Linked DNA regions of Homo sapiens: region 2 is linked to region 1. The links come from fine-mapping of genetic effects on gene expression. Tissue or cell type: whole blood. Region 1 holds a variant in brackets; the other region holds the start of a gene. All regions are shown on one strand. Distances are from middle to middle.

What was found. PIP is the estimated chance that this variant, and not a neighbour inherited with it, causes the effect.
Region 2: it holds the start of CCDC170, and the variant in region 1 is fine-mapped to the expression of CCDC170 in whole blood (TOPMed, PIP 0.93).

Annotation. Positions count from the first base shown.
Region 1 is chr6:151,582,570-151,590,676 of GRCh38, reverse strand. CCDC170 (coiled-coil domain containing 170) reads right to left here. Exons shown (of 11, transcript NM_025059.4): 7 at 4,588-4,788. Among named protein-coding and RNA genes, the nearest start is that of CCDC170, 93 kb to the right of the region's middle. The variant G/A (reference allele first, on the strand shown) is at 4,064.
Region 2 is chr6:151,490,126-151,498,232 of GRCh38, reverse strand. It overlaps CCDC170 (coiled-coil domain containing 170), which reads right to left and starts at 4,216. Exons shown (of 11, transcript NM_025059.4): 1 at 4,048-4,216. The coding sequence starts at 4,104. LOC124901436 (a long non-coding RNA gene) reads left to right here and starts at 27. Exons shown (of 2, transcript XR_007059817.1): 1 at 27-97; 2 at 1,169-1,826.

The sequences.
Region 1 (8,107 bases):
CTTTTAACTTCATAGAAATGAAGGATTACTGTATATATTGTTCATTTGAATCACAGTTCAGCATAAATAAGAAACTGCATTCTACTGTCTTTGAGTCTGCCAGATTACCTGCATTTAGCATTTAAACTCTGTGCAACTTTGCTTTTCAATTTACATGATACTATCCATCCTTACCAGAACGTGCATTTCATATGCAGTTAGCGACGGAAAATTCACGACGGACAGAGTTAGCTTACATAATTTGCTTTCATAACTGAGAGTTATTTGAACATAATCCCAATTAAAATTAATGATTCATTTATAGTAAGGGAAGGGAAGAAATACCAATCCACCTGAAATTCTTGCCTTTAATATATTTCTTCTATAATTCAAATAATATTTATTGACTCTTTCTCTAGGCCCTGGAGAAATACAGGAAAAAATGATTTTTTCTGGCCTTAAGAAGCTTGGTATATTTGGAGAAGAAAAAATTTAAAAACAATCCAATAATGGTAAAAAGTACCATGAGAGAGGCAGATGCATGTTGCTTGGAGAGCAAAAGGAAAGATAGGTAAGTCTCTTAGGGAAGACTGCCAGAGGAAGTGGTATTTGAGCTGAATCTCGAAGAGATTGCTGCTGCCAGGTGAAGGAGGTAAGGAGAACATTCTCTCGGTGAAAATAGCAGTGGGCAATGTAGGAGGCAGCTGGAGGACGCCAGACGAGTGCTGCTACAAATCTGCATGGATGTCTTTAGGCTCCGTAATCACCGCAGACCCCACCAGGGTCCTGCCACTCCCAGAAGGCTTCTGAGTTTGCCCCTGCTGGCAGGAGAAATTGCAGGGGAGAGGGAAGATGGAGAGGCCACCTGGCCAGCTCACAGAACGTGGGGCCATGGAAAAAGAAGGAATCTGTACCTGATCCTGGGGGCACCAGAGAACCACTGACCAGTTTTAAGATAAAGAAAGATAAGATTAGGCATACCTTTCATTAAGACCTCCCTGGCAGCAATGAAGAGAGTAAATCTGAGGCACAAAGAACAATGCTGGGAGCTCAGTTAGTAGGTTGTTTCCCTAGTCCGTGTTAATGAGCACAATTCTCAGAGCCAAAGCACAGCTGCTGGATATAGAGATGGGGGAGGCATTGGAGATCTAGTAAGGAGACAGGATTTACAGTGCTTAGGAATTGATTAAAAAGAGGGAAGTGTTGAAGATGGCTTGGGCAAATGGAGGCAGATTACCACCATGACTGAAGCAGGAGAGGGACAAATTTGAGCAGATGTCATTTCAGTTTTGAGTGTATTTTGGTGTTCACGGACCATGCAGGTGAAGCTGTCCAGCAGGCAGTTAGATGGCTTCCAATTTACATTACCATACTCAGGTGCAATATTTCATTTTGTTTGGTCGTGGTTGTTTTATTGTGTTTGTTTGTTTGTTTGTTTGTTTGTTTTGAGAGGGAGTCTCTGTCACCCAGGCTGGAGTACAATGGCGCAATCTTGGCTCACTGCAACCTCTGCCTCTCAAATTCAAGCGATTCTCCTGCCTCAGCTTCCTGGGTAGCTGGGATTACAGGCACACACCACCACACCTGGCTAATTTTTTGTATTTTTAGTAGAGATGGAGTTTCACCATGTTGGCCAGGCTGTTCTTGAACTTCTGACCTCAAGTGATCCACCCACCTCAGCCTCCTAAAGTGCTGAGATTATAGGCATGAGCCACCACATCTGGCCTGTTTTTGGTTTTTTGTTTGTTTGTTTGTTTGTTTTGAGACGGGGTCTCACTCTGTCACCTAGGCTGAAGTGGTATGATCTCAGCTCACTGCAACCTCCACCTCCCAGGCTCAAGCTATCCTCCCATCTCAGCCTCCCAGGTAGCTGGGATCACAAGTGTGTGCCACCATGCCCAGCTAAATTTTGTGTTTTTTGTAGAGATGGGGTTTCACCATGTTGCCCAGGCTGGTCTTGAACTCCAGAGCTCAAGCGATCCACCTGCCTCAACATCCCAAAGTGCTGGGATTATAGGTGTGAGCCACCAAACCCAGCCAATATTTCTTTACAAAATCAAATTTTCCACCATCACACCTTTACAGACATCTAACAGAAAAAGCTCCCTTCACTCTCCCAGACTTCTCAAATCTATCCCCTATTTCCATTCACAAAACCACTACTTGGTTCAGATCTTTATTATCTTCTGAACTGGGCTAGTCTGAACTGGACTATCTAACTGGACCAGTCAGGGAGCCACCAACTGGGCTCCCTACCTTCCCTCAGCTGTGTCCAACCCTTGGAAGGCGAGGACTTTTTGCTTATCTGTGGTGGCAGATACCTCAAAAATTATGCATGGTTGTTTTTTGTTTGTTTTGTGTGTGTGTGTGTTTTTGTTGTTGTTTGTTTGTTTTAGCTTATCAGCTATCACTACTGTTAGTGTATTTTACGTGTGGCCCAAGACAATTCTTCTTCTTCCAATGTGGCCCAGGGAAGCCAAAAGGTTGGACACCCCTGCTACCCTCTAAGCGAGTCTGACTTGAGGGAAATCTTTCTTTTACTCAAAAACCTTCTCTGGCTTCCCATTACCTACGCAGTGAAGCCTGAGTCATTAGACTGACCCATCTCGATCATTCCTATAGCTGCCTCCAGTGCCATCTCACACCTTTGGTTTCGCCAAGTATCATGTCCCAGGCTCCCTGCACCTCATTCATTTCCTGAGCCTTCTTTTCACACCTCCATTTCTTCTTTGTTCCTGCTATTCTTTCTGCCTCAAATTCCTTCCCACCTCTTCTGCCTGACAAATTCCTACTCATTCTTTAATGCTCCCCTCTTCTGTGAAGATGGCTCACTTACCACACAGAAAAAAAGTCATTGCTCCTTTTTCCAGGTTTCTGTTAAATTTTATACCTGTCTCCATCATGGCACTAATTGTACTATTTGCACTAATTGCACTATTGCACCATTGTACTATTGCACTAAGCGCACTAATTGCACTATTGTACTATTACGCCCCGATCTCCCTGTCTCATCTGCTAGACTTGATTTTCCACAGACACCTTTGGCACATCTTTGCATATCCAACCTCAATGCAGGCATGATGATTCCTCAATGTTTTAAGTACAGAAGAATGAAAAGGAATATGTTACTTGAGTGTACATGTTTCAACTTTAGGGCATTTTTCATGCCAAATTTGGCATCGAGGCTCTTGGGCCTGTGTGCCTCCCTTTCCCTTCCCACACTCCCTCCTGCAGACTCTTTCAGTCCATACTTTCCCCGCCATCCTGTCCAGCAAAACCTTTCTTTGATCTTGTTTTTCACAGCCACTGCCTCATGCCTCTCTTCTCTTTGGTCACCAGACTTCACACTGGTCTACTAGAAGGTCGCTCCCCTTCCTCTCAAGGATCCCCTCAGCACAAACAAACTGGCTTTTGCTCTCCACCGCTCCACCAAAACTGCCTCTCAAAGATCACTGACAGTCTCCCCACATTCGAATCCTCAGTGCGGGCTCCTTCTCTTCCCGTCTAACTCTCCTCTCCCACTGGGTTATCAGTGCCATTGTTTCCGAGACCCTCCATGCCACAATCTCAGCTCCACGGGGACATCACGCTATCTTTCTAAAATACTGCAATGTGGCCTGGCACGGTGGCTCACACCTGTAATCCCAGCACTTTGGGAGGCCGAGGCGGGCAGATCATGAGGTCAGGAGATCGAGACCACCCCAGCTAACACAGTGATACCCCGTCTCTACTAAAAATACAAAAAATTAGCCGGGCGTGGTGGCGGGCGCCTGTAATCTCAGCTACTTGGGAGGCTGAGGCAGGAGAATGGTGTGAACCCAGGAGGCAGAGGTTGCAGTGAGTCGAGATCACGCCACTGCACTCCAGCCTGGGCAACAGAGCGAGACTCTGTCTCAAAAAAATAGAAATAATAAACATAAACATAAAATAAAATAAAATACTGCAATGCTCACACTTACCACACTTCATATTCTACAGAGTAAAGAACACTCCATCTTCATAGTCTAAGCCATTCCAGTCTTTTCTCTTGCCACAGATCCACCGAGAATAACATGTTCCAGCCATGGAGGATTCACCATTTTGC[G/A]TCCTCTGAATATACTATGCACTTGCCAGATTTCATGCCTTTCTTCAAACTGTTTCCCCTACAGTATCTGTCTCCTGTCTCCACTATAATCTGACTTATCTTTCAAAAATGAACTTAATTATCTCCTCTCCTATAAAATCTTCCCTTTATCTGGAAGTTCCTACAGCACTTTATTAATTCAATACATATAACATGTGTAAACTTATAGTACAGCAAATTATCTGAGTATCTGTCTCCCCTATTGAATTATGAGCCTTTAAGATCAGGAACTGTGTATTATTCATATTTTAGCTTGCCAAACCTTTAGGACCTCATATATGGTAGGCATTCAATAAATACTCGTTGAGTTTAATTAAATTAATTTGAATCAAGGAAGCTCCAAACCCATTGTTCCTTGAAATTGACTTAACCAATTAAGTCCAGGACTTAACCAAACTAAATACTGTAAAATTCAGGATATTTTCAGGTAAAATTTTATACTACAACAGATGCTTCCACTCATGGACATGCCCTCGGGTCATTACTTTTTGTTTCTCAAAATTCAAGTTGTCTCGCAAAACACCTCCAGAAACCAGCTCTGCCTCCAGGTGTGTCAGCTGACCCTGAAGAGTCTCCAACATATTCTCTGCTTTCTGGGCCCTCTGGAGAGCTTTCTGGTGAAACCCAGACTCCTTTCCCAACTGTTCAACAAGCTCAGATATTTGGGCTTCAAGCTGGGAGACCATCTGGAAACAAAGAAACAGATCAAGAATAAGCCTTGTTTCAGATGCAAGGAAGTGTTCACATCTACTGCTCTGCCTAAGCAGCATAACTGTTTATGATACCAACTTCCAGATTATTTGTAAAAATCCCATTTAAAATATGTAATTGATAGCTGTATTTGCCTCTGTTTGAAATAATCTACTTTCATTATTGAATTAAATTTTTCGATTGGTATTTTTAATTTTTATATAATTCTTTTATCAGGTTAATCAATAAAAATTTATGGATAACATTTACTTACCCCAAAACTATTGCTAAGAGTTTCAAAGTTTAGTAGGAAAAAGAATTAAGACAAAAAGTACTGTAAAAATCTACAAAGAGTCATTCCCCAGAAAAATTCTTTCACCATTTTGAGTTGACTTAAGATTAGACAGTGAGATAATCTTGGTAGGTAACATTGAGGTATTACAGGGAATTCATGTACAGATATATGCTTTTTCAAACTTTTTTCAGCTTTCTGTTGAAGATTGGTTACCTATGCCCTAAACTCCAGGGATGCTGACTCTACACTACATAGTTATAGAGTAATACCATTTTTGCATTGGAGAGGTCAACATCTCTTTAATATGGTGACTCTAAATAAGGTCAGTGTCAATGTACAAGAGAGCAGGGGAATCTGAGTACTGTCCCATGTTAAAGTCCCTCCAGGCTCTCCACAACCCACCTGATTTGCCCAATGCTCCCATCCTTCCCAGGAGTTCCTCTTTTTGTCCTGATCATTCCCTTAAACCAAGAGTGCAAGTTTACCAAGGACCTCAGGGACACTCTCAGAAAACTCAAACTGATTTTACTAAATCCAGTTTCATAAAATGTTGAATTCAATAAAACCACCAAGCCTAGGGTGATAAATTTGTTTTCTTTCGATGGTTTATTTTGGAAGAGAAGAGGGAAAACATAGTATTTACATAACAGTACAGTACCATTCTCACAGAAATGGAAACATCCTGACTGTTTCAGATTTTTACTGTCTAAATTTTTAAAAAGAAAACAATTTCTGTTTGCCCATCTATAAACAGCCGTGCTTAAACACGTAATCTGCCTTTAAACTTTTTGAAAGGCTATTATATGGGAGAACAAAAGGATTTGTTCTGAGTTACCCTCGGAGCCTATATTGAGAACCAACAGGTATAAATCAGAGAAGAAATTCCATATTTATGAAAGGAAAATGTTTTCCCCAGTTCCTATAATTATAAAGTAAGATATCCCCATGAAATTTCTTTTAACCACAAAAAGTATAAACAGGCAAAAAACAATCCCCTGTGATCCCACCACCCAGAGGCAAAAGCCATTAATATTTTTAAATAATTTGTTTTTGTGTATTGTTAAAATATAGTTGAAATATTATACATGCAATTTCATGTCTTTGTTTTTACCTAATTATTCTCATGCCGTTTGAAATTCTTAATTAACATTTTAATGGCTGCATTAAGAATTCATCATGAGAATGTGTCATCATTCACTTAAGCATTCCTTTCTAAGAAAGGAAAAACTCTTCCCTGTGAGGTCTGAGAAAAAAAATTAAAAATAATAAATAATCAAAATAAAGAAGAAAGGGAAAACTTTACAATGATTACAGCTGTGTAAAGACACTGTCCAGTAGGGAGTGGATTCCCAGTCACCGAAGATGGCCGGAAATTGGCTAACTACAGGCACATCTCACTTTATTGCACTTACTTTATTGCTCTTCGCAGATATTTTAGTTTTTTACAAATTGAAGGTTTGTGGTAACCCTGCATTGAGCAAGTCTATCAGCGTCATTTTTCTGACAGCACACGCTCACTTTGTGTCCCTGTGTCACATTTCGGCAATACTAGCAATATTTCAAACATTTTCATTACTATGATATCTGTTATGGTGATCTGTGATCGGAGATCTTTGATGTTACTATTGCAGTGTTTGGGGTGCCACAAACCACTCCCATAATAAGTCAGTGAACTTAAATGATACATGTGTACGTTCTGACTTTTCCACTAACTGGCTGACCCCACTTCCTCTCCTTGGGCCTCCCTATTTCCTGAGACACAACAATATTCACATTAAGCCAGTTAATAACCTTACAATGGCCTCTAAGTTTTCAAATGAAAGGAAGAGTCAGGCTGGGCATAGTGGCTCACGCCTGTAATCCCAGCACTTTGGGAGGCCAAACTGGGTGGATCACCTGAAGTCAGGAGTTCAAGACCAGCCTGGCCAACATGGCGAAACCCCATCTCTACTGAAAATACAAAAATTAGCTGGACGTGATGGCTCATGCCTGTAGTCCCAGCTACTTGGAAGGCTGAGGCAGGAGAATCACCTGAACCTGGGAGGCAGAGGTTGTAGTGAGCCAACATCACGCCACTGCACTCCAGCCTAGGTGACAGAATGAGACTTCCATCTCAAATAAAAAAAAGCGAAGAGTCGCACTTCTCTCATTTTAACTCAAAAGATGGAAATGACTAAGCTTAGTAAGAAAGGCATGTTGAAATCTGAGATCGGCCAAAAATTGGGCCTCTTACTCCAATTAGCCAAGCTGGGAATAGAAAGGAAGCGTTCTTGAAGGAAATTAAAAGTGCTACTCCAGGCCAGGCACGGTGGCTCACGCCTGTAATCCCAGCACTTTGGGAGGCCAAGGTGGGTGGATCACCTGAGGTCAGGAGTTCAAGACTAGGCTGACCAGTATGGTGAAACCCCATCTCTACTAAAAATACAAAAATTAGCCAGGCGTGGTGGCAGGCGCCTGTAGTCCCAGCTACTCAGGAGGCTGAGACAGGAGAATCACTTTAACCCGGGAGGCAGAGGTTGCAGTGAGCTGAGATTGCGCCATTGCACTCCAGCCTGGGTGACAGAGCAAGACTCCGTCTCAAAAAAAAAAAAAAAAAAAAAAAAGTGCTACTCCAGTAAACACACTGATACAGTGTGGATATTTGTCCTCTCTAAATCGCATGTTAAAATTTGATCCTCACAGTTGGAGGTGGGCCTAGTGGGAGATGTTTGGTTCATGGAAGCAGATCCTTCATGAATGACTTGGTGTCATTCTTGCAGAATTGAGTGACTGCTCACTCTTAGTTCCCATGAGCTCTGGTTGTTGAAAAGAGCCTGGCACCTCCTCCTCTCTCTCCCTTTCTTTCTCTCTGGCCATGTGATGCCTGCTCCCCTTCATCTTCTGCCATGAGTGAAAGTTTCTTGAGGTTCATTGCCAGAAGTAGATGGCACTGTGCTTCTTGTATAGCCTGCAGAACCATGAGCCAAATAAACCTCTTTTCTTTATCAATTACTCAGCCTCAGGTATTCTTTTATGGCAAC
Region 2 (8,107 bases), 92 kb after region 1:
TATTCTAATTAACCCTTGTTTTACAGAAAGGAAAGAGATGCTCAAATTCCCAACAATGGTATCTACTGGAGCTGTAACTTTGATCTAGGTTTTCCAGGTATGTGAAAACACTGCCACAGCAAGAGAGCCTACAAGCCACCATATGTCTGTGGCTTCTCACTGGTGTCAGAGGATTTGGAATCCAAGCACTTTCCACAGAACTATTGCTACAGCTTTTTGCTGACTGGTGATCCTATTTTATAATTAGGTCACTTTTCTTTTTTTTTTTTTTTTTTTTTTTGAGATGGTGTGTTCAGTGGCACAATCTTGGCTCACTGCAACCTCTGCCTCCCAGGTTCAGGCAATTCTCCTGCCTCAGCCTCCCCAGTAACTGGGATTACAGGCACCTGCCACCAAGCCTGGCTACTTTTTGTATTTTTAGTACAGACGGGGTTTTACCATGTTAGCCAGGATGGTCTCGAACTCCTGACCTCAAGTGAGCCTCCCGCCTCAGCCTCCCAAAGTGCTGGGATTACAAGCATGAGCCACCGCACCCAGCACATTTTCACTGGGTAGCGTTATTTCAAATGCATGACAAAGTTATGCAGTCTTACTGAAAGCTATGTTTGTAAACTTCCCCCAAAGCATATCTCTTTCCTTCATGTTTGGGCTGCTCCACTTCAATTCTCATAATATTGCTGTTAGTATTTGTCACATTTTCCATCCCAGTAAGGCTGTGCTGGTGATCGCATTATAGGTAAATCCAACTTGAGAAGAGTGCAGCATTAAATTTTAGTGTTGATGAAGGAGTAATCTTTTTATGTGTCTGTTTTTCTTGATTGTAAACTCTTTTTTAATTTTTATTTTATTTTTGAGCCAGGGTCTTGTTCTGTTGCCCAGGCTGGGGTGCAGTAGTGCGATCAAGGCTCACAACAGCCTCAACTTCCTGGGCTCAAGTGATCCTCCCACCTCAGCCTCCCAAGTAGCTAGGACTACAGGCCATGCCTGGGTACTTTTTGTGTTTTTTGTAGAGACGGGGTTTTGCCATGTTGCCCAGTCTGGTCTTAAACTCTTGGGCTCAAGCGATCCACACACCTCTGCCTCCCAAAGTGGATTGTAAACTGTCAATTCTTCATTATGAGCAGGGTCAATCTCCAATTCATTTTTGTATCCTCTGTCCCTCCTACAGATTCTCAAAACACTGACTATTGAGATGGTGGCTGAAGTACTGATGGAAGCATTGGTGATGATGGTAGGAGTAGGTGCAGTGGTGTTGACACCAAAGCAAATTCCAAAAGTTACAAAGAATAACGATAGCTAATATTGATATGCACTTATTCTGTCAGACACTCTCTTGAGTGCCTTACATTTATTAACCGTGAAATCCTCAAACTACGTTATGCGATAAGTTTTATGATTCCATGTTTTAGAAGAAAAAACTAAAATGCTGATACATTAATTGTTTTGACCAAGATGTCACAGATGAGTGGTATAATCAGGATTGTTTGAATCTAGTTTTGAGTCTAAAACTAGTATCTCAGTCTCTACAGTATTTTACTTTTCCAGAAAGTTGCAGACTATCACTGCTTTGTAATTTAATGTTTTCAGTCTGGCATGGTAGGAAAAGTACAAAGCTTTTGAAAGAAAGATACAAGTCCCTGCTCCATCATTTCTAATCCAGTAAGCTATTTCCTCATCTTATATAGTGAGAAATTTCTGCCCCGCCTATCTAAATTATAAGATGATCTCAGATAAAGTATTTTGCAAACTGAACATTTAATTGTAATAAATGCTGCCTTTTCTGCAGCTACTTTTGTTCTCAATAAAATTTAGTTATTTTAAGCCAATTAAAATCTCATGCTTAATGGACATTTTCCTTTTGTAGGCAGTGACTTATGCTAAAAATTTCTATCCGAATCAATATTATTACTCAACTAATATGATTTCTTATTTATTGCTAAAGGGGAAAAATCTGGCAGAGGCCACCAGCTGGGGACATCACCAATAATGGGATAAGCTGATATATGCCCCTCCTGATGTGATACTCTGAGACATAACATCTCTTATGTTATTCCTACCCAAAAATCTAATCACGAAGGACAATCAGAGAAACTTACTCTATAAAACGAATGACCTGGACTCTGCAAAAATGTCAGTATCATCAAAGACAAAAACAAACAAACAAAAAAACAAACAAAAAAAATGTGAAGAACTGTTCCAGGTTTGAAGAGACTGGAGACATAACTAAATACAGTGTGTGATCCTGAGATGGAAAAAAAATTGGCAATAAATGGCATAATTGGGACAAGTGGCAAAGTTTTAGTAGGTCGTGTATATTAGATAATATTATTGTCACAATGCTAAACATCCCGATTTTGATCATTGTATGTTCGTTAGAGAATGCCCTTATTCATAGGAGATAACACACCAGAGTATTTACAGATGAAAGGTCATAGGGGACCAGGCATGGTAGTGCATCTCTGTAATCCCAGCACTTTGGGAGTCTGAGGCAGGTGGATCGCTTGAGCTCAGGAGTTTGAGACCAGCCTGAGCAACACGATAAAACTCTGCCTCTGCAAAGAACACAAAAATTATCCAGGCATCATGGCATGCCTGGAGTCCCAGCTACTCTGGAGGCTGAGGTGAGAGGATCGTTTGAACCCAGGGGTGTCAAGGCGGCGGCGAGCCGAGATCGTGCCACTGCACTCGAGCCTGGGTAACAAGGTGAGACCCTGTCTGAAAAAAAGAAGAAAGAAAGAAAAGGAGGGAGGGAGAGAACAAGAGAAAAAAAGGAGAGAGAAAGAAAGAATCATGATGGCTGTAATTTACTCTCAATGGGCTCACCAAAAAAAATATATATTAATAATATAAAAATACCACATACTTATGTATGGTTAAGACACCACATTGGGATAAAAATTAATAAAGTCAAATATGAAAATGTCAGATGAAAGAAAAAACATCTAGTAACTGGCCTCTGAGTTAGAAAGAAAGAAAAAATAGTTTTATTTGCACACAGTGGTACTTATTTTCCACAAATATTCCAGGAATCAGAGAAATCTAAATACAGGTCAGATGTAAAACAACAATCAAAGCTGCTGAATATTAGAAGAATTCCGATGGCACGTTGGAGAATCCAACTCATGTTTTGAATCCACTACATCCCCCAGGGATATCTATGGTCAGTACACAGCGTGGTAGGAAAAGTCCAAAACTTTGGAAAGAAAGAAAAATCCTCCATCATTTACTAATTGGGTGAGTTACTTGCGGTTAGCAGTTGAGCTGAACACAATTCCCCCATCTCTGGCAACTACTCCCAATACACACGATACCCGGTGGGCCCCGATGCCAAGGCCAAAGGGGGATTCTTAACCCAGACTGAGCCAGCCAGATCTTCTTGTGCGCCCAAGTATGCATATGCCCGTGTTCGTGTGTGTGCGCGCCCGTGTTTGTTCGCGTATGTGCCTGTTCGCGTGTGTGCACGAGCGTCTGTGTATGCGCGCATGTTCGTGTGTGTGTGCGCGCGCGCATTGGTACATCTAATACCTGAAAGTCCCCAGTACCTAAGTAACTCCTGGGAGTAAATGAGTAGATGCATTCAGGAACAACTGAATTACCAACGTTTCTGGATTACTTCGCAACGAAAGGGCCGGTGACTCTACTCCGGGCTGGCCCTCCTCCTGCCACATCAGATTTTCCAGAAATTGCTCCGAAGCACACTTCAGTAGCTAAGCAGGGAAAGTTAAATGAAGGAATTCTTTGCTCCCAGGGGTGGCGGGGAGGAACTGCCCGGCCACAGTCTTTCGAATGTCACCGGTTTAAATGGTCAGAGAAGCAGAGTGGCACAACCTAAAATTCAGACGCGCTCCGCAAACTCCGGTCCTGCCCATCCCCTCCTGAAATCAGCGCCCTGGCAGTCCCAGGCCACAGCCCTCGCGGGCACAGAGCTGCTCTGATTCTGCCCACGCCTCCGGGAGGAAAAGGGTGCAAATCAGGGGCGCCTCGGCCCCTCCTGGGTCGTCTATCCCCAGGGCCACCCCCGCGCGCGGCCGGCGGCTGGGACCGTACCTCGGGCGCTGGCGAAGCGGCACCCAGCGCGATATGGCTGGTGCAGTCCAGGCTCATGACGACCCGAGCCCGGGGGCGCGCTCGGACCCGGAACCGGCCCTGAGGAAGCGGCGGCGCCGGGAGCCGGCGGGTGGCGCGGGTGTCTCCTCGGGCAACGGGTAAACACCGCGGGGACGCGGCGGCGCGCGGCTGCGCGCGAGTAGGGTGGCCCGGCCGCAGGAGGCCGGGGTGGACCCCGAACCCCCGAGCGTGGCCTCCGTGGCGAGGGCCTGCAACTGAGCGGCCGAAACTGCCAGGGCGACCTGGGGGGAGTCGGCGGGGATAACGGTCGGTCCTCCCGGTGGGACTCTGCAGTGAATGCAATTCCAGGCCTCATCCTTATGTCAGCGATAAATACAGCCAGTGGGCACTGTGAACGGTGCTGGCGCGAGTGAGGCATAGGAAACTTCACAAGGGTGAACGGAGCATTTATTTAGCACACACTGTGTGCAAATGTGTCTGCGAGCGTGCAACCTGTGCAGGTCCGGGTCCTGCGCTTGGTTTAATACTCAGCTGTCCCAGTCTTGACGTTTTTAGGAAGTTTTGAACAAGGTGTCCTGCATTTTCATTCTGTACCGGGGTCCACAAATTATGTAGCCTGCCCTGGTGTGCGTTCTTTCATTTCACCTTCTCAACAACCCTGCCTGGAAGTACGGGTACTAGTAATACCAGTGTTAGTAACAGCCACAGCTGCTCATTATGAAATACTCGTGCTCGTCCATGCACTGTTCTAAGTGCTTCCCACGTATGATCAATCTCCTTAAATGAAACAAGATTATGAAGTGGATGTTAGAATAATCCATCTGCAAGACAAGGCAACAGTCACAGGGAAATAAAATAAAATTTCCAAGATGTACAGGGTAAGTGGTAGAATGAAGATCAGGCTCCAGATCATAACACTAAAGCACAGAGAAGATGAGTAACTTGTTTAAGGTCCCACAATTTGTAGCAGAATCTGAAAATGGAATCTGCATTCACCTCACTTTAAAGCTTTTGGTGGGCCAGGCGCGGTGGCTCACTCCTGTAATCCCAACACTTTTGGGAGGCTGAGATGGGTGGATCACTTGAGGTCAGGAGTTTGAGACCAGCCTGGCCAAGAAGGTGAAACCCTGTCTCTACTAAAAATACAAAAATTAGCCGGGCGTGGTAGCGGACACCTGTAATACAGCTATTTGAGAGGCTGAGGCAGGGAAAATCATTTGAACCTGGGAGGCAGAGGTTGCAGTGAGCCAAGATTGAGCCACTGCACTCCAGCCTGGGTGACAGAGCAAGAATCTGCCTCAAAAAAAAAAAAAAAAAAAAAGAAAAAAGCCTTTAGTAGACTCCTATGCTGTTTGAGACACATGAAATCAAACAGGTGGGAGGATTGCTTGAGGCCAGGAGTTTGAGACCAGCCTGGGCAATACAGCAAGACTCTATCTCTACAAGTTTTTTTTTTTTTTTTTTAAATTAGCCAGGCATGGTGGTGCACACCTGTAGTCCTAGCTACTCAGAAGGCTAAGGCGGGGCCAGGTGAGGTGGCTCATACCTATAATCCCAGTACTTTGGGAGGCTGAGGCAGGTGGATCACCTGAGGTCAGGAGTTCGAGACCAGCCTGGCCAACATAGTGAAACCCTGTCTCTACTAAAAATACAAAAATTAGCTAGGTGTGGTGGCACATGCCTGTAATCCCAGCTACTTGGGAGGCTGAGGCAGGAGAATCGCTTGAACCTGGGAGGCGGAGGTTGCAATAAGCTGAGATAGCACCACTGTACTCCAGCCTGGGTGACAGAGCAAGACGCCATCTTAAAAAAAAAAAAAAAAAAGAAAGCTAAAGCAGGAGGATAGCTTTGAGCCCAGGAGGTCAAGGCTGCAGTGAGCTATGATCACCACTGCACTCCAGCCTGGGCGACAGAGCAAGAGCATGTCTCTAAAGACAACACAAAAAGGCAAAATCAGAGCTATGGCAGCTTTTCTTGGATTCCATCAGTCATCCTATGTGCATTCATATTGACCCTGAGGATTTCTTCATCTGGACAATGGCTTTTGAGCTCACGGTAACTTTGCCATATATCTAATCCAGAATCATCTCAAGGCTTTCACTTGATGCACCGTTAAAGAAAAAGTTCTTAATGAAAACTTAGGCTTTCAGAAATCTCCTATTAATAGTACAATTTGGAGTAAACACATTTTTAAGTTGTAGTTTTTCCTTGCAGTAGAACCACTACAAACTTGTCAAATTTTCTTTTCTTTTTTTTTTTCAAACAGAGTTTCGCTCGTTACCTAGGCTGGAGTTCAATGGAGCGATCTCTGCTCACTGCAAACTCCGCCCCCTGGATTCAAGCGATTCTCCTGCCTCAGCCTCCCGACTAGCTGGGATTACAGGCATGTGCCACCACACCCTGCTAATTTTGTATTTTTAGTAGAGACAGGGTTTCACCATGTTGGCCAAGCTGGTCTCGAAGTCCTGACCTCAGGTGATCTACCTGCCTCCACCTCTCAAAGTGCTGGGATTACAGGCGTGAGCCACTGCGCCCGGCCAAACTTGTTAAATTTTCAATGAACCAACACTGCCAGAGGAAACACAAAATTGATGAAAACTCAAGACACCTGGAAGAGAACCAGATGGAAATCCTTCTCCATTAACTCTAATCCAATTGTTTAAGAATCCCATGTCATAAAGCCTAATTCTGCTCAGTTTGGTCAACCTTGTAGCTCTTATTCATGAGAATAGAAGATATAAATTTGCAGTCTTTAAAAATCAGCATGAAACAGATTTTTCTCTGTATAAAACAATGTGATTTTGTGGTAACTGGAGGCAGAAAAAGTACTTGGCTCAGCCCTCCCCAGATGCCTTTGAGATTTCTGGGATATCAAGACATGAGCCAAGTGACTCTTCAAGCAGCATCTGATGATGTGATGACGTCAAAGAAGTTGAGCTGGGGGGACCCCGAGGTCTGGACCTTGGAGGAGATGACGATTTGGGCTAGCTGGGACCATGGTGGTAGAACATTTCAGGCTGGGAGTTGGAGGGGGGCGGTCTCTAGGTCTGATAACAGTTTAAGCAAAGGAGGGAAGAAAAAATGTACAAACAAGTTCCAGTCCAGACCTCTCACAAAACCCCGTGTGTGGGCAGCACCGTGTGGCCCACAATACCTCCGTACAGACCTCTGTTTTGGAGTTTTCTTGTGGTGTCGTAAGTTTAGAACTCTGGTTTCCTCCTTTTGCTTGTTTGCTTGTTTGTTTTACAGATGTACATGTTTCTCACGGGAACATTTGTAATATGATAACTTTTGGAGCTTTTGACTTCCGATTGAAAACTTGTCACTGAAATCACTCCTATGACATTTTAATTGTCTAAAGGTTGTTTAAAAGAGTAGGCTTAATTTTAGTATTTTCCTAAACACTTGCTGTGATCTAAATGTTGGTGCTCGCCACCCCAAATTCATTTGTTGGAACCTAATACCCATTGTGATAGTGCTAAGAAGTGGGGCCTTTGGGAAATGATGAAGTCATGGGGGCACCACCCTCATGATTGACATTAGCCCTTCTAAAAGTGGCTCGGATTTGTTAAAGGATACAAAGTGACAGCTAGACAAGGGGAATCAGTTCTAGTGTTCCATACCACTGTTTGATGACTACTGTTCACTATAGTACATTATATAGTTTCACATAGCTAGAAGGAGGATATTGAATGTTCCTAATACAAAGAAATAATAAATGTTTGAGATGATGGATCTGCTAATTATCCTGGTCACTATATATTATTTGTATCAAAACTTCACTATGAATCCCATAAATATATACAATCATATGTCAATTTAAAAAACACATTAAAATTTTTAGCCGGCGCAGTGGCTCACGCCTGTAATCCCAGCACTTTGGGAGGACAAGGCAGGCGGATCATGAGGTCAGGAGATCAAGACCATCCTGGCTAACACGGTGAAACCCCGTCTCTACTAAAAATACAAAAAATTAGCCGGGTGTGGTGGCAGGCGCCTGTAGTCCCAGCTGCTTGGGAGGCTGAGGCAGGAGAATGGT